3 linked regions of the Homo sapiens genome follow. The protein of the gene in region 1 interacts with the protein of each later gene in a pairwise test. Each region holds a gene or a part of one and is shown in the gene's direction. Other genes may lie near its edges.

What was found.
Region 2: the proteins of NTRK1 (region 1) and SH2B1 interact in a two-hybrid assay, tested with the Homo sapiens proteins (2 studies listed by BioGRID).
Region 3: the proteins of NTRK1 (region 1) and PTPRR interact in a two-hybrid assay, tested with the Homo sapiens proteins (one study listed by BioGRID and IntAct).

Annotation. Positions count from the first base shown.
Region 1 is NC_000001.11:156,877,865-156,882,350, forward strand, and holds the end of NTRK1 (high affinity nerve growth factor receptor isoform 2 precursor), read left to right. Parts: intron 1-1,257; coding exon 1,258-1,498; intron 1,499-2,134; coding exon 2,135-2,293; intron 2,294-3,592; coding exon 3,593-3,778; 3' UTR 3,779-3,986; downstream 3,987-4,486. UniProt on the Homo sapiens protein: Receptor tyrosine kinase involved in the development and the maturation of the central and peripheral nervous systems through regulation of proliferation, differentiation and survival of sympathetic and nervous neurons.
Region 2 is NC_000016.10:28,859,955-28,866,845, forward strand, and holds the start of SH2B1 (SH2B adapter protein 1), read left to right. Parts: upstream 1-3,888; 5' UTR 3,889-6,140; coding exon 6,141-6,891. UniProt on the Homo sapiens protein: Adapter protein for several members of the tyrosine kinase receptor family.
Region 3 is NC_000012.12:70,658,736-70,665,774, reverse strand, and holds part of PTPRR (receptor-type tyrosine-protein phosphatase R isoform 1 precursor), read left to right. Parts: intron 1-3,169; coding exon 3,170-3,280; intron 3,281-4,567; coding exon of another isoform or gene 4,568-4,573; exon of another isoform or gene 4,574-4,677; coding exon 4,678-4,835; intron 4,836-7,039. UniProt on the Homo sapiens protein: Sequesters mitogen-activated protein kinases (MAPKs) such as MAPK1, MAPK3 and MAPK14 in the cytoplasm in an inactive form.

The DNA of each region.
Region 1 (4,486 bases):
GAGGGAGCCCATGCAGGGTGTGGAGCAGGAGGCGAGGCCAGACCCAAGGTTGAGTGTGGAGGAGGATAGGCACAGAGGAGCCCAAGAAGGCCAGGGAGGAGCCTATCTCTTTGCTCCCAGACATGGCATAGGCTCAGTGCTGGTCTTGGGGACACAGGCTAGGGAGATACCAGCATCTGGGGCCCAGGCTGTGGGAGACGAGGCTCTAACTGCTGGATGGAACACTGGGGGAATCAATGGAGGGAATCATTAATGCTCAGAGATGAGTCTGGAAGACTTCCCCTAGGAGGGACCATCTGTTCCTTCTCCCCTCCAGGCCTTTGTACTTCCAGTTCCCTCTGCCTGGGGCATTGGGCCTCCCTCCCTCCATAGAAAGATGGAGACAGACACACAAACTCTACCCCTCCCTGCCTCAGCTCCCTTCGAATGGCTTCAGGACTTGAGTCTCAATTTAGGTGTCCCTTCCTCTAGGAAGCCTTCCCTGGCTTTTTCCATTCCCACCCGTGGTGCCTGCCAGGTGCCCCTCACACTGCACTGCCATGACCTGCTTATCTGCATCATACTCTGCACTGTAGCCCCAGTGCTTGGCACACTGGAAATGTTTAACAAATGCCTCAACTAAACAAATGAGGAGAAGATTGGCTAGTAGGAAAGGGCATTTTTGGCAAAGTGATCAGTTCAGGCAAAGGTTCAGGAGAAGGAACATTGGGGAATATGGATGAGTGACTAGGACTGACCCGAGTGCTCGCTCTGGGGAGAAGGCGGGCATCCTGGACACCTTCGAAAGGAAGGAAGACCCCGTAGGAATGGCTGGACACTGAGGGCAGAGGGGAGAGAGACAGGACAATCAAGGACTCCCTGGTTTCAGGGTCTGCCTGGGTGGGAAGGGTCCCTTCCCTGAGGCAGGGGCAGGCTTGGGGAAAGACACCGAGCTCCAATTGGCAAGGGCTGAGTCTGACATGCCTATGGCAAGGGATGTAGGGGCCAGTGGGCATCTGGAGTTCAAGGAGCTGCCAGAGAGGAAGGCATGGATGTGGGAACCATGGGCTGTCTCTGGTGGGAGCCCTGGAGGTGGGCACACCTGTTCCGCTCCTCCATCCCACCCCTCTGGACAGCTGCCTCTACTGTTCTCTCAATCCTCCACTTCCAGGTCCCCAGTCTCCTCTCCCATCACACGCGGCTGCTGGGGATCGCCTTCCTCAGGCTCCTGGGAGTTCTATCCTCCCAGCCTATCCCCTCTCCTTTTCTTGTTCACAGATCCCATGGACCTGATGCCAAGCTGCTGGCTGGTGGGGAGGATGTGGCTCCAGGCCCCCTGGGTCTGGGGCAGCTGCTGGCCGTGGCTAGCCAGGTCGCTGCGGGGATGGTGTACCTGGCGGGTCTGCATTTTGTGCACCGGGACCTGGCCACACGCAACTGTCTAGTGGGCCAGGGACTGGTGGTCAAGATTGGTGATTTTGGCATGAGCAGGGATATCTACAGCACCGACTATTACCGTGTAAGGGTCCTTTGTCCCCAACGCCTTCCCCTGCATCCAAACTGTAGACACCCTGGATCCCAAGACCACTGAGAGCCTGCCCTTGCTAGGATGGCTGCATGGGTCTGAGATTCACTGGCTCTGGTTTTCAACCTACCTCCTCGGCTCCTGGTGGAGGGGGCTCTGTCTCCTTCGCTATCCCAGATGGAAACAGCACCTTCGGTTTTTGCCTCTTAGACCTGAGAGCCACCACTGTTTGTTTATTTATTTATTTAATTTATTTTTTTGAGACGGCGTCTCACTCTGTTGCTAGGCTGGAGTGCAGTGGCACGATCTCGGCTCACTGCAACCTCTGACTCCCTGGTTCAAGCGATTCTCCTGCTTCAGCCTCCCGAGTAGCTGGGATTACAGGCCACACGCCATCACGCCCAACTAATTTTTGTATTTTTAGTAGAGATGGGGTTTCACCATGTTGGCCAGGATGGTCTCGATCTCCTGACCTCGTGATTGCCCACCTCGGCCTCCCAAAGTGCTGGGATTACAGGCGTGAACCACCGAGCTTGTGTATTTATTTTTAATGATGGGGCTGGGGTAGGCTGTGCCTTGACGGGCTGTCCCAGGCGCCCCTGGAATTGATGCAGTGTCCGCCCGTGGCAGGTGGGAGGCCGCACCATGCTGCCCATTCGCTGGATGCCGCCCGAGAGCATCCTGTACCGTAAGTTCACCACCGAGAGCGACGTGTGGAGCTTCGGCGTGGTGCTCTGGGAGATCTTCACCTACGGCAAGCAGCCCTGGTACCAGCTCTCCAACACGGAGGTCAGCCCCGGCCCATGGTCACCCCTTGCTGGCCTCCCCGTCCCATGCCCCTTCAGGTTCCTTTTTCAGGGAACTCGGTTCCCCTTCTGCCCCTCTGCCACAGCCTGTTGGGGGGCCCTTTCCAGCGCCGTGCCCACACTGTGTCCCCTCCACTGTGGCCCTTTTCTTCTCTTCCTCCCTTATTCTTGCCTTCACCTACTGTCCTAAGCCCAGGCCCAGTTGGCCCCTGGGGGAACCTCAAAGTGCTTTGTACAAGGAGCCCAGACCCCCATCCCTAGCTGCATTTTATAGACCTAAGCAGGAATTATCAGAGTGGAAGGGACCAGCACGGGAAGAGGAACCCAGCACAAGAAGGCCCAACACTGCAGCAGGACGGCTGGAGGTTAGACTGTCAGAAGGACAGTCCTACCCCCTCCCCCTGCCCTCCTAGCTGGCCACAGCCAGAGCAGGCCCCAGGTGTTCTGTCTCCCAGAGCAGCTGCCCCCACCCCCTGCTTGGCTCGCAGCTGTCAGTTTCCATTTCTCCTCCTAATGCAGTCTGCTCCCCGGAGGCTGGTGGGGTGGGGGAGAGGGTTATAGATTTTAATTTTCTCAAGCACTGAGAGAAGAAATGGAATTAGTGCCGCCCATAACCCAAGTCCTCTAATAGGGAGGGGGGAAGAAGGGGAAAAGAGGCTCCAGGCCCCTTCTCCAATCACTCCCTGCCACCCTTTCTCCTTTGGATTCCTTGGCTGCTTTAGCAGTTCTTCCTAGAGTCTAACTTTGATCTTTCTTGCTGCAGTTTCTTTTTGGGAGAGCTAGTCAGTCCCACAGAGTGGTATCCCTAGAAGGGAGAAGTAAGGATTGCCCTCTTCTTTAAAATGAAAGCCAGCTATTTTTCACGCCCTTTAACTGCAGTTCTGCTCTATTTTCTTTTCTCTCTCTGGAGCTGAGAGTCAGAGGGCCCTTCTCCTCCTCCTTTCAGCCCCCAACACTAAGCTGATGGATTGATAAATACCTCAGCCCCTCGCCTTCCTCAACCCACCTGGCAAGTCTTCTTAGGATCTGATCCCAGTTTTCTGGAAGCAATCCTACCCCAGCCCAAGCTTCCCATAGTCGAGCCTTAATCCTTCTCACTTCTCAGTGTCAGAGCAGAAATGAATCCTGGGGTTGACTGTGTCCATTCGGGTTATTAGCAGCTAAGAAGCCCAGACGAGTAGTGTGAGCTGCCTTGGGAGCCTCAGTGAGGGCACTGGGACTGGCCTCACTCTCTTGCCCCCAGCCTAGTGGGCTTTCTCCTCTGTCTCTCCGGTGGCCCCAGGCAATCGACTGCATCACGCAGGGACGTGAGTTGGAGCGGCCACGTGCCTGCCCACCAGAGGTCTACGCCATCATGCGGGGCTGCTGGCAGCGGGAGCCCCAGCAACGCCACAGCATCAAGGATGTGCACGCCCGGCTGCAAGCCCTGGCCCAGGCACCTCCTGTCTACCTGGATGTCCTGGGCTAGGGGGCCGGCCCAGGGGCTGGGAGTGGTTAGCCGGAATACTGGGGCCTGCCCTCAGCATCCCCCATAGCTCCCAGCAGCCCCAGGGTGATCTCAAAGTATCTAATTCACCCTCAGCATGTGGGAAGGGACAGGTGGGGGCTGGGAGTAGAGGATGTTCCTGCTTCTCTAGGCAAGGTCCCGTCATAGCAATTATATTTATTATCCCTTGGCTGTGTCTCTTGCCAGTTATTGGGATGACGTCGTTCCAGGAGGGAGGCATTGGGATTCAGGTAGGGGGACAGCTCTCTGGGATCTTCCCCCACTCAGGTTCCCCTCAGCTGCCTACCCCTACTCCATGGACCTGTCACTCTCACCTTTGACTATAGTTTGGATCCCATTCCCATGGTCACCTGGCTCACCTGCTGGTAAGGCAGCCTCTGGTCAAACTTCCTAGACCTTGAGAGCCTAACTGTCAATCTTTGTAGTTCATGTTCAGGAAGGCTGGGCTATAGTGGAAGGGGTGGAAGTTAGATGTACTGGTAGGATGGGAGCGTTGATGGGGTGTCTTCCTTGTATTGGTGTGTCCGGGACAGAGCAAGCACGCAGCAGCAGATGAGAGAGAAACATGTGTGTGTGTGTGTGGGGTGATGGGGGGCAGGAAAGGGACGGAGCTGGACTAAGGATTGATGGAGGCAGGACCCCTTGTTCCTGCCCCTCTGTTACTCTTCT
Region 2 (6,891 bases), on another chromosome or scaffold:
TCCCTGCTTATGAGGAAGAAGGGTTTCTCCCCTTCATATTAATGCCTTGGCTTAACCTGGGCCCTGGATAACGTCCCCACCAACCTTCTCCGCAACCTTGCTCCTTCAGCGACCATCCTCTCTACTGATTCCTTTCCCCTTAATGTTTCCAACAAAATCAGATCTTCCTCAAGATAGAAACAAACAAGCAAACCTTTCTACCTTCTCACACTTACAACCTGCCTTATCTCTGTCCTCCCCTTTTCAGCCAAACTGTGTAGAACATCTCTCCACATTTTTCCTCCCACTTCTTGAATTTTTTTTTTTTTTTTTTTTACGATGGAGTCTTGCTCTGTCACCCAGGCTGGAATGCAGTGGCACGATCTTGGCTCACTGCGACCTCCACCTCCCAGGTTCAAGCGATTCTCCTGCCTCAGCCTCCCAAGTAGCTGGGATTACAGGTGCGTGCCACCACGCCTGGCTAATTTTAGTAGAGACAGGGTTTTGCCATGTTGGCCAGGCGGGTCTCAAACTCCTGACCTCAGGTGATCCGCCTGCCTTGGCCTCCCAAAGTGCTGGAATTACAGGCGGGAGCCACCGTGCCCAGCCTCCTCCCACTTCTTTACCTTCCACTCATTCCTCAAACCACTACCATTTGGCCTCTGCTGAAACTACTCTCACCAAGTCACGCAGCAGTCTCTTAGTTATCAATGCCTTCTAGAGACCATGGCAGCACACCCTGTGATCCCCCACGGATCCCTTTATATCATTTGTGTTTGTGTTTGCCCATTTCCCCCCGACACACACACATCTTATACTCACTCCCACACTCCCTGGTCTCTGGTATGTGATTTCTGTTCCAACAGTTAGGACTCCAGATTTGTTTTTTTTTTAATTTCTTGAGATGGAGTCTCGCTCTGTTGCCCAGTCTGGAGTGCAGTGGCATGATCTTGGCTCACTGCAACCTCCACCTCCCAGGTTCAAGCGATTCTCGTGCCTCAGCCTCCCAAGCAGCTGGGATTACAGGCACGCGCCACCACACGTGGCTAATTTTTTATATTTTTGGTAGAGATGAGGTTTCGCCATGTTGGCTAGGCTGGTCTCAAACTCCTGACCTCAAGTGATCTGCCCACCATAGCCTCCCAAAGTGCTGGGATTGATAACAGTGGGATTGATTACAGGACTGAGCCACCATGCCCAGCACTTTTTTGTTTTTTGAGATGGAGTCTCGCTCTGTTGCCCAGGCTGGAGTGCCGTGGGACGATTTTGGCTCACCACAGCCTCCGCCTCCCAGATTCAAGTGATTCTCCTGCCTCAGCCTCCTGAGTAGCTGAGATTACAGGTATGTGCCACCATGTCCAGCTAATTTTTGTATTTTTAGTAGAGGTGGGGTTTCACTATGTTGGCCAGGATGGTCTTGAACTCCTGAACTCATGATGCGCCCGCCTCAGCCTCCCAGTGTTGGGATTACAGGCGTGAGCCACTGCGCCCGGCCATCTTAGAACATTTTTTTTTTTGAGACGGAGTCTCGCTCTGTCGCCCAGGCTGGAGTGCAGTGGTGCGATCTCGGCTCACTGCAAGCTCTGCCTCCCAGGTTCACGCCATTCTCCTGCCTCAGCCTCCCCAGTAGCTGGGACTACAGGCACCCGCCACCACGCCTGGCTAATTTTTTTTGTATTTTTAGCAGAGATGGGGTTTCACCGTGTTAGCCAGGATGGTCTTGATCTCCTGACCTCATGATCCGCCTGTCTCGGCCTCCCAAAGTGCTGGGATTACAGGCGTGAGCCACTGTGCCCGGCCTTGAACATTCTTAGGTGAGTCAGGATTTATCCGTCTTCCCCTCTTGGGTTATTTATTTGTCTTCGAGTTCCAGGATGGGCACTTGATCCAATCAGCTACTCAGTTCTGGAAATTTCATTGGGAATCTCAGAAAAGAGGCATGCTCCTTCTAGGAGAGTTGCTAAGCTATTAGGGTTTAAGCTTGGAGCTACAAGAAGCTATTTTGCCACTAAGAGAGGAGAGCCTGCCTGAGGGTGAAGCCAAATGCATAGGGAAGGCAGAACCAGAGATGGTGAGCCACAGGTTCCTGATATCTTCTGGCCCCTGTGTTCACCTGTCTGAATCTGTCCGCTCTGGACTTTTCGATTACTTGGGCCATAGCTTCCTTTACTGTTTAGGCCAGCTGGAGCCGGGTCAATCAGACACTGGATGGGTGGAGGATCTCACTGTGCTCATGCTTTCAACTACCCTCCGTACTTTAATTGTTCTCGATTTCTCTAACTGGCCTTGATGTCTCTTCTTAGCTCCAGACTATATGCCCACAGACGTCCCAAAAGCACGTCTGGAATTGACCTCATTATTATTATTGTTATTATTTTTGAGATGGAGTCTCGCTCTTTTGCCCAGGCTGGATTGCAGTGGCGCAGTCTTGGCTCACTGCAACTTCCGACTCTGGGGTTCAAGTGATTCTTCTGCCTCAGCCTCCTCTCAAGTAGCTGGGAGTACAGGCGCCTGCCACCAAGCCCGGCTAAAATTTTTGTATTTTTATTGCAGATGGGGTTTCACCATGTTGGTCAGGCTGGTCTCAAACTCCTGACCTCAAGTGATCCGCCCGCCTCGGCCTCCCAAAGTGCTGGGATTACAGGCGTGAGCCACTGCGTCCGGCCTTGACCTCAATTCTTTTTTTTTTTTTTTTTTTTTGATAGGGAGTCTAGCTCTGTTGCCCGCGCTGGAGTGCCGTGGCGCCATCTCGGCTCACCGCAACCTCTGCCTCCCGGGTTCAAGCTGTTCTCCTGCCTCGGTCTCCCAAGGGGCTGGGATTACAGGCGCCTGCCACCACGCCCGGCTAAATTTTTTGTATTTTTAGTACAGACGGGGTTTCACCATGTTGGTCAGGCTGGTCTCAAACTCCTGACCTCAAGCCATCCGCCCGCCTCGGCCTCCCAAAGGGCTGGGATTACAGGCGTGAGCCAGCGCTCCCGGCCCTGACCTCATTTTTTTTTTTTCTATTTTTAAAATAGGGATTCTAGTTCTGTTGCCTGGGCTGGAGTGCCGTGGCGCCATCTCGGCTCACCGCAATCTCTGCCTTCCGGATTCAAGCTATTCTCTTGCCTCTGCCTCCGGAGGGACTGGGACTACAGGCGCGCGCCACCATGCCCGGCTAATTTTTGTATTTTTAGTAGAGACGGGGTTTCACCATGTTGGCCAGGCTGGTCTCGAACTCCTGACCTCAGGTGATCCACCTGCCTCGGCCTTCCGAAGTGCTGGGATTACAGGCATGAGCCACTGCGCCCGGCCCTGACCTCATTATTTCTACCCACCCCCTCCCCCACCACTACCACCATCTTCATCTCCAGCCTCAGAGATGCAAACTCCTGGACCGCCTGCCCCTTTCCTCAGATAAACCAAGGTCGTAAGTTCAGGCTCCGCCTCCCCGCAGGGCCTCCCCAAGGTCACCCGCTTCTTTCCTCGCTCAGCTCCTTGGTGGCGTTGTCCGCGTGCCCCTCCACAGCGGGGCCGGCGCTCTAGGCTGCAGCGGGCCGTTCACACAGCCTCATCATCTCGCTGGTTTCCGGTGCTCGGCGGCTACTCTAGCCCTCAGCCGGGCCCTGGGACTCTATCCCCTAAGGCCGGTTCTCTATGGTCGACATCGCCCCTTTGTCCCGAATTTCCTCCGGGAGGACGCTCTGGTGGGATCCAAGCACTTCCCCCGCTGCGTCTGTGGTCGCTTTTAGGTGCAACTGGAGAAGGCACTGAAGCCCTACGAGATTCACACCGTCTTCGGTCTCCTGGGGTCGGCGCCGAGTGGGAGGATGGCGGAAGTAAGTATGAAGGTGCCCTTCCCTCCCGCCGCTGTTCTCTATGGTCTCTTCCTTCAGCGACGGGAAAGGGGGTCCTGACGCCTGCGCGGAACCGGGCTGGGCGCTCGTCGCGTAGTGGGTGGGGGCGCAGGGAGCGGGAGCCGCCGCCGCCGCCGCCGCCGCCGGAGCTAACCTCGGGGACCGAGATGCAGGTGGGACCGGAACCGGAACCCCCCTCTTCAAGTACCTTTTCCCTCTCCGCGACCCGGCCCTGGCGCCCGAGAGGATTCCTGGGTGGGGGTGGGCGTGGAGGGCCGGGGGCTGGAGAGGCACTCGGCCCCGGAGAGTGCAGCAGACAGGGCTGGTCCCGAGGTGGATGCGGCCCCGGAAAATGGGCGGCTGGGGGGTGTCCAGGGAGTAGGGTCGGATCGGAGTATATGGACCACCGGGCCCGGAGGGTCCGAGCCGAGAGCGGAGCCTGCACCCTCCACCTCCCGCCCTTCGGGAAATATCAGAACTGAGCCAGGAGGCAGGTGCACCGGGAAAATGTGTCTGAGTCCTGCTTGGCAGAAGAGAAACTGAGTCACCAGCTTAGGAGTCGCAGGGTCAGCGGGCCTGAAGGGGGCTGGGTCTGTCTGCGGTGCGGAGGATTGGGTGGGCCTGTGTGAGCCGAGGTGGCCGCTGGCTGGAGATTGGTTTGCACTTCTTGGCTGGGTTCCCCCGTGCTCCATGACTCCTGCATCTCCTGATTGTTTCTCGTTGGTTTGGAGTTGTCCCTGCGGTTGGAGCCATCTGAGCTTGTAGGGTCGAGGCCCAGGAGGAAGGGGAGGGTTCACCGACTTACAGCCTGGCTGTAGGTTTGAACAGGAGTCTGAGGTCGCTGAGGGTTTGGGGAGGCTTTCCTGAGCTGCTCTGGCCCCAGTCCTGGGGCTGTCACCTTCCAGTATTGCGTGGCGGGAGGAGCGCTAACAAGAGCCAAGGGTTGTAAATTCCACACCCAGCTCTGCCACTTTCTAGTTGTAAGACCTTGAGAGGGCTCCTCCTTTCTCTAATTTCTATTTTAGAAAATTGGAACAATAATATTCTTCTCCCACATGAAGATAGTAACAATGGCAGTCGTTCAGCGGATGCTTACTTTGCGTTCAGCGCTGACATACCCCATTCCATGTAATTCTCTCAACATTTCGAGGGGAGGGATCATTAGCTTTGTTTAACAGATAGAAAAACGGAGGCTCAGAGAGGACGTGGAATTTGTTCAAGATAACATCGCTCATAAGGTGGCTGGACTGGGTGCTCATAAGGTGGTTTGAGCCCTGGTCTGACTCAAGTCCATGGCCTTAACCAGAAGGCTAACCTGCCTTTAGGGCATACTCCCCAGTGGGAGAAGAGGAAGGTGAAAAATCCTAGGGCCCCAGCTCTCCCTGTGATGTTTTGTTTACGTGAGGCCAGCAAAGACTTGACCTGAGCCAACCCAGTTTCTCCTCTGGGGCCCCTGCGGCCTCTGGCCCCAGACTGAAGGGATACCAAAGAAGTGGGCTGTAGCTATTTCACATCTCCTTCACGCAGTGCGTGGGTGCTGGACTCTGGGGTCAGCTTTCAAGACAATTACTGTTTTGGTCCATCATGCATCCATCCTCATTAATGAATCGGCCCCCTCCAAAGAGTTGGACCCTAAGATGCGTGAGGCAGGCTCTCTAAGGTCTAGAATCCCAGCTCCTCTCTAGCCCCCTGCGAGCTGGGGCGGTGAGGTGCTATGGCTGAGGCTGGCCCAGCCGGGCCCTGGGGACAGGGACTATGAAGTGGGGAAAACAGTAGACTTGGAGTTCTGAAACTTTTCTGAGCTTCGGTTTCCTCATCTGTTCGAGAGGTCTTTGAAACCTCTCAGGGAAAGGTAAGATAACCAAGTGGGAGCCTCTAGAATGGCTCATGGGAAGTGTGACATGAATATTGGAGGATCCGATGTAGAGGGGGGGTGATCTGGAAAAGTTCCCTTTTTTAGGGGGAAGGTGCTCCAAAGCCCTCTACTGCTGGATCCAAAGCTAAGGAAAGTGGGGGCAAATGTGGCAGGCTCGGGGCAGGTTAGACGCTGGGGAGCCAGTTGGCTGGGGCCTGCAGGGTGCCAGGATCTGGGAGAGGGAAGGGAGGTGTTGGGCTCCCTTCCCCATTGCTCTCTGCGGAGTCTGAAGTAGGGTCGGACGTCTCTGGCTGGGGGTGGGATGCAGCCTCCGGTGCGCCCTCAGCAGTGACCCTCGTGTGTGCCTCTCTCTTCCTTTCGCAGCTGCTGCCGCCCACCCCTCGTCTTCTGGCTGCCTCCCTCTTTGTGCCCCACAGGCTCCCCCTCTCCACCTCCTGGGGCCCATCATGAATGGTGCCCCTTCCCCAGAGGACGGGGCCTCCCCCTCGTCTCCCCCGCTGCCCCCACCCCCGCCCCCTAGTTGGCGGGAGTTCTGTGAGTCCCACGCCCGGGCTGCGGCTCTGGACTTTGCCCGCCGTTTTCGCCTCTACCTGGCCTCCCACCCCCAATATGCGGGGCCCGGGGCCGAGGCTGCCTTCTCCCGCCGTTTTGCTGAGCTCTTCCTGCAGCACTTTGAAGCCGAGGTGGCCCGGGCCTCTGGCTCCCTGTCGCCACCCATCCTGGCTCCCCTGAGCCCTGGTGCGGAGATTTCGCCACATGACCTGTCCCTTGAGAGCTGCAGGGTGGGTGGGCCCCTGGCTGTGCTGGGCCCTTCTCGATCATCTGAGGACCTGGCCGGCCCCCTCCCTTCCTCAGTCTCTTCCTCCTCTACAACCTCCTCCAAGCCGAAGCTCAAGAAGCGCTTTTCCCTGCGTTCAGTGGGTCGCTCTGTCCGAGGCTCAGTCCGTGGCATCCTGCAGTGGCGGGGGACCGTTGACCCTCCCTCCTCCGCTGGGCCCCTGGAGACCTCGTCAGGCCCCCCAGTCTTAGGTGGAAACAGCAACTCCAACTCCTCTGGCGGGGCTGGGACCGTTGGTAGGGGACTGGTCAGTGATGGAACGTCCCCTGGGGAAAGATGGACTCACCGTTTTGAGAGGCTGAGACTCAGTCGGGGAGGGGGCGCCTTGAAGGATGGAGCAGGGATGGTGCAGAGGGAAG
Region 3 (7,039 bases), on another chromosome or scaffold:
ACTAGCTAGACCGCCTCCTCACATAGCCCTAACTTGGTGGGGGCCAGAAGGAGAATCAAGGGAAGAAAAAAGATCACAAAAATATGAGCTGGCGGCCGGGCGCAGTGGCTCACGCCTATAATCCCAGGACTTTGGGAGGCCAAGGTGGGCAGATCACCTGAGGTCAGGAGTTCAAGACCAGTCTGGCCAACATGGTGAAACCCCGTCTCTACTAAAAATACAAAAATTAGCTGGGCGTGATGGTGCACACCTGTAATCTCAGCTACTTGGGAGGCTGAGGCGGGAGAATCGCTTGAACCCGGGAGGTGGAGGTTGCAGTAAGCTGACATTGTGCCACTGCACTCCAACCTGAGTGATAGAATGAGACTCCATCACAAAAAAAAAAAAAAAAAAAAAAAAAAAAAAAAAAAGAATTTGCATTGCTTTGTGTTACATCCTACTTTTGCTGTAAACCACCAGTTACAAAGCACTGGTTAATGTCCAGAATCTTTTCAGTCAGAGTTTGATAATAACTTGTTTGCACAAGAGACACTGTCCTCTGGAAACCTATTTTTTTCTTCCAAATTATGGATTCTTAGAATTAATAGATAATTTTACTGAAAGGATAAGCCTAGCTAGCAAAAGAATAGTGATGATTTGGGGTTATATTCTGCTAAATAGCATGCTATTTTGAATCACCTACAATTAGTGTGGTTTCACAGTATTATCTGTAAGGCAGCATTTTTCTTCCCTGCCTTTTCTGCCTCTTTTATCTCATTGTTAGCACCACAATAAAGAAACCCTAAAAAGCTGTACAGGAAAATAATTTGAACATGAACTTGTACTCTTAGAAACAACTGCATTTGCAGCTGTCCCCCACCTCATATTCAAAAGTACCCACACTTATCTGGTCTCTTTTTCTGTCATCTAAATGAGGGAAAAATGTATTCAGTGTGTAAAAATAAGCTATTGTATCTCAGAAAGGAGATGGGATGCTAATTAAGGGTTGTTTGAATGAACAAGTCACATTGCATTGTCTACTGGGAGCTGACTGCCAATTGCTTTTTTGGTAACGAGTCAAAAAAAACATTCAAGAGGGCCCCCGGCAAGCTTGGGAGAGAAGCGAGCAGCATTTCCATTTATCAAGTAGGTGCAGAAGCCTGTGCAAGTATTAAGAGTCAGGGTGCAGGCGGCAAGCTCCTGCTTTGCAGCTTTTCTTACTGGTTTTGAGAGCCACCTTCCTAAAGAGGGCCCTGCTGCTCAGGTCTGATCGTGGACAATGGGGCACGTACGCCAGACTGCTGGACTACTGAATGAATGCCTCTTTCTTTGTTCAATACCTTTTCCAAGATTCTTTGTCATTCTTCTTGGACTCATCGGGAGGCATGGGTTTTAAGATACACAGTAGCTCGGGTCTTACAGCGAAATAATTGATGCTTCATTGAAAGAAACCAGGCAAATTGGTTTGTATGATTACCTTTAACAAAGTGGGAAAATTTTAGACATTTGGCAACTCATAGATTTCGAGAGAAATGAGTTGCTCTACTTTAAAAAGGTTTCTTCTCTTAATGTTAACATTAAGTCAGCCAGAGTAAGTCTTTTGGTCTGATAGCCTGAGAGTCTCAGGTGGCATGTAAATAAAGCTGAAACAATTTACTTCATTTAGAAAAAGGGTCAAAATGTAGAGGATGTAAATGTGTTTTTATTGTAATGGATGAAAGAAACTGATTCTGCTAGGTGAAGTGACTTCCTTCGCTGTGCTAGCTTGTAGAGTAGTGGTACTTAGCATAATAGAGCCCTGGAGGTGTGTTTCTGATACTTTGTGTCACTTTTCCTTCAGTTCTATAATTTTGTGAGTCTTTTGCTGCTCTTTTAAATCTATAAGTATTTAAATTTTTATCAAGTGTATTCATATGCCTTTGACAAAGATGTGAAGAAACAAGTGTCCTGGGTATTAAAAGGTTCTGATTGAAGGCAACAAATGAAAGAATTTCTATGTAAATGTATGTATGGTTGGGAGAAAATAAGTGCTATTTAAACATTTCTAAAATTAACATTGCTTCCAAGAGCACTCAAAATAAAACATAAACATTTGTCATTTTACATTCTTTATCATCAAAATTTGTGGTAAAAAATAGTTATTTTACAGTTGTTTAAAAAGCAAAATGAGATTATATGTATGCTTGAATCTCATTTTGCAATTTTTATTTAATAATGATAACTGACTATAATAATACCAAAATAATATTTAATGCATGAAGATCTAATCACTTTGGGCCAAAAACCTATCACCCAGTAGTTTTAAAATAACAACAGCAATAATAACATGTTGTAAGTGCTTACTCTATGCCTGGCTTTATCCTAAGTACTTTCCAGATAGCCAATAATAAAGAAACTATAACCAAAGGGTTTAAGTATCTTGTTCGTGGATTCACAGGTAATGAATGGTAGAACCAAAATTTGGACTCAGGTTCCGAGTTCAAAGCCTGCGCCTTAACCACCATGCTATGTTGCCTTGCTTGCAGTATAATTATTGTCACTCTTTTAAAGCTCCTCAGGAGGATCCATTATAAAAATATTTTTAACGTAATTTTTGTAAATTAGTTCCATAAGTGAAAAAAACTGTTGGTCCGGGAAAATATAATACCATAGTTGTATTAATGATCATTATATCTGCCTTACATATAAAGGAAACTTGGTTGTATGCCACCTAACATATTAGATATTCTCATTAGACATAAGTTTGTTGAAGCAGGAAAATGTAACTTTCCTCAATTATTGTGGGAAAACATTCTTTTATTTCTAGTCAGCACATGATAAATTCTAATATTTGGATCTCAATTTCTTAACTCTTAAATTTCTTAACTTCTTAATTAGTTCTTAATTTCTCTGAGGAGTTTTGGGTAATTCTGCCTTTTTTTTTTGTATGGAGCCAGCAGTGACAGTGTTTAATAGGCACATATGAAACTGATACTTTAAAAAAAACTGTTGAGATATAATTTATATACCATAAAATCTAGCTGCTTAAGATTTACAATTCAATGGTTTTAGTATATTTACAAAACTATAAAAATTGATATTTGATATTTTAAAACTAATGATATAAAACTCTTGAGATGCTTGAATGAAAAGTACTCCATGGCTAATAAAAGCCATTAATATTTGCTGTATTCTCTTTCCCTTCCTCCAGAAATGTGTGCTATACTGGCCGGAAAAGAGAGGGATATATGGAAAAGTTGAGGTTCTGGTTATCAGTGTAAATGAATGTGATAACTACACCATTCGAAACCTTGTCTTAAAGGTAAGATTATGTAGCTATAGCCATCTACAAAGTAGATGATGTTAGAGGATTACATTTCTACTTTGAAATTATTTAAGTACTACAAATGCAATTTAAGCAAATTAAATAATGTTAAGATCAAAGAGAAACTATAATCATTCCCTCATGTATTTTTTGTTGTCAACTACTATTAATATGCAGTATAATTAAATGAATGTAAGTAGACATTAAGAAAATTCATTATGTAGGATGTTGTGATCCTCTAATTTGCGTTAATAAAATATCTCTGATTTAACCTTTTGAAAGCTTTTAACTAAAGGCTGTGCTGGAGACTTTACCATGATTTTTTTTAATGTCATTTTGATCTAAGCAGCTTTGCGTAAGGCCTGGAAGCTGTGAAAGAGAAAATCTGCATTTGTGGGTGGCAGTGGGAAGCAAGGCAAGCCTGAAGTGTTGATGAGATCTTCAGAAGCGTGGAGTTACAGTAATTTATAGGGACTTTCCCCAGACGAGATTATGTCATAGGAAAACTATCTTATTTAACTCATGGGCAGCAGATGCTGAGAAATGTTACCATGGTATTATTTTTGCTTCTGGAGAATAATCACCCAAAAATTTCGATCTTATCTGCAGCCTCACTGCTGGGATAGAATCATCACAAAGAGGAAGAAAACAGGGGCAGAGCTACAGTGATGGCTTTTGTTGGGAAGTTTGGAATAGGAAGGCGTTTACCAAAACCTGTTTTTCAACACATGTTCTGGAGTGCCGGGGAAGTTTGGAATAGGAAGGCATTTACCAAAACTTATTTTTCAACACATGTTCTGGAGTGCGAGGTTCATGCCACACCCTCACCCGTGCTGGGTTTGGAGATGAGGTGTGTGGGCCCTCACCCAAGTGTTTCCAATAGAGGGATCTCATGTAGCTTCTTTATTGCTGTGATTCCTCACTCCTATTAAATACTGGAGTTTTGGATGAGTGTAGAAGTATTAGCATGACTGATATGAAATTAAGTGTTCTATTGATTAACATGTTTATAATAACTTGTCAGGAATGCTCATAGAGCAGGAAACAAAATATATCTCATTCTTTCTTGGCTACATTTTCACCTACCATCTTGTTTATTATAATAAATTATAAATATATATTTAGCATATGTTACTTATATGATCTATATTATAACTATAGGTAGAGATGTAAATCTCAACAAAGGTATGACTTTCTCACTTTGCAAACAGGTTACTGACAGTAAAGTCTTCTCAAAGTAAAAGGGCACTCTTCAAAAATCTTCTAAATTTTTTTCCCACCTAGAAATAAATTGCCAGCAAGATGGGGGTGATAAAAGGCATTCAGTATTGTGGTTTGGATGACTTTTAGTTCTACAAGTGAATGAGGCATTTGGTGGCTGTTGCTATTTTCAGCAAGGAAGCCACACCCAACATGTGAAGCATTACTGGTACACCTCATGGCCTGATCACAAGACTCCAGACAGTGCCCAGCCCCTCCTACAGCTCATGCTGGATGTAGAAGAAGACAGACTTGCTTCCCAGGGCCGAGGGCCTGTGGTTGTCCACTGCAGGTAAGACGTGTATGGTCCTTTCTGTCTAAGCAATGGCCCATTCTTTGTAAAGTCACAGAGCAGGTGCAAGTGGGTTTTGCTTCCTGGATGTGACTTTGTTGGCAAATTAAATATTTATTGAAATTGGTTAAGTCTGTAATATTTGAGTCTGAATCAAGATTATGCTGACAGAAGTGAAGTCATGCTTTTAGGTCATTTTTCACAAACAACAATTACACAGTCGGCGAAATACAAGTTCGTAATAAATGGCTCAGTGAACAGGAGACCTATTCAGCAGTTATCTGCTTTGAAACTTATATTGATTGATTTAGTCTCATCAGTCTTGTACACACCAGGAATAAAGATGCACTTTTTGAAATTATCAGTGGCTTTTTTGTTGTTTCAACATGACATGTGAACTCTGCTTGGCTTGTATCTTGGTAACATTACTATTTCAAGTTTGGTGAAAACCAGTCAATTATTTTAAGAGTTATCTCCAGAAAAACAGGTTGAAACAAATTTATGAAATGAGAAGTGAGCAAGTCACCAAAGGAAAACAAAGTGCTGTTACCAGAACATGGAGCACTAGAGGCCAAGCCAACAACAGCAGCAGGGTCTGTGCTGGTTCCTGTCCCTAATTTCTAGTTCAAAGCTCTCTTCCTAAAACTGATACCTCCTTCCCCTAATTTTCCTTTTAATGTAACCAAACTGAAGGCAGCATTTTTAAAGTAATTTATATGAACAACTATTTATTTATTTATTTATTTATTTATTTATTTATTATGAGACAGAGTCTCACTCTATCACCCAGGCTGGAGTGCAGTGGCGCTATCTCGGCTCACTGCAACCTCCGCCTCCTTGGCTCAAGTGATTCCCCTGCCTCAGCCTCCAAAGTAGCTGGAATTACAGGCATGCACCACCACGCCTGGCTAATTTTTATATTTTTAGTAGAGGCGGGGGTTTCACCATGTTGGCCAGGCTGGTCTCAAACTCCTGACTTCAAACGTGATCCACCTGTCTTGGCCTCCCAAAGTGCTGGGATTACAAGTGTGAGCTACCATGCCCAGCCAGCCATTTATTCTTCATGCTTTCTCAAAATAATTTGGGTTGCTTTGTTTAACCGCATAGGTCTCTTAAGTCAGCTTTTGATGATATATTTAATAAATATATTATTTTAGAGTATAATTTTAGCCTCCTTTTTTGAGATTGTGTGGTTTAATTAAGAGTAAAGTTTACTATGTGTCTATTTATCCAAAGGTAGATAATACTGGCTTTATCCTAAACTTAACTTGGAGCCAAAAAAACAAAAACAAAAAAACAGCCTAACTGACTATGCGTTAGGGCTGGAACTGTCCCCCACCCAAAGTCATTAAACACTCAGGATATCTAAAATGAACTAGTCACTTCCCCTATAAAACCAGCTCCCCTTCTGATTACTATTTCTGAGAATGAGACTATCTTTTTTCCAGTCACTCAGGATCCCATGTTGACAGTTATCTCTGGTCCTCCTTTTAACTCCAACATCAGTATCTAATCAGTCACTAGATTGGCTTTCCCTTCAAAGCTTCTCCCATAATCACCATTTCCTGTCCAGCCACCATAGTTCAGGCCCTTCTGACCTCATCCATGTATTTTAGAAGTAGCTGGTAAAATGCACACACATACCGCATTCCCCCATGCTCTCACCGCCACCATGGCCTACCTGTGCCCTTTCTCCGTCTCACCTTACATGGAGTCTCTGCTCAAAGCTTGTCAATGGGCCAGGTGCGGTAGCTCACACCTGCAATCCTAGCACTTTGGGAGGCCGAGGCAGGCAGATCACTTGAGGTCAGGAGTTCAAGTCCAGCCTGGCCAATATGATGAAACGCCCTCTCTACTAAAAATACAAAAATTAGCCAGGCGTGGTGGAATGTGCCTGTACTCCTAGCTACTTGGGAGGCGGAGGCAGGAGAATCGCTTGAACCGAGGAGGCAGAGGTTGCAGTGAGTCAAGATCCCGCCACTGTATTTCAGCAGCCTGTGCGACAGAGAAAGACTCTGTCTTATAAAAAAAAAAAAAAAAAAAAAAAAAAAAAAAACTAGAGCAAAAGTCCCTAACGTTGAACCTATCCATAAACCGCAGAGGTCAGTGAACTCCTTGAAATTATTTGGACACATTTGAGTATGTAAACTTATGTGAATTTTTCTGAAGAGTGGAAGCTTATAGTCTTCATCAAATTCTTACTT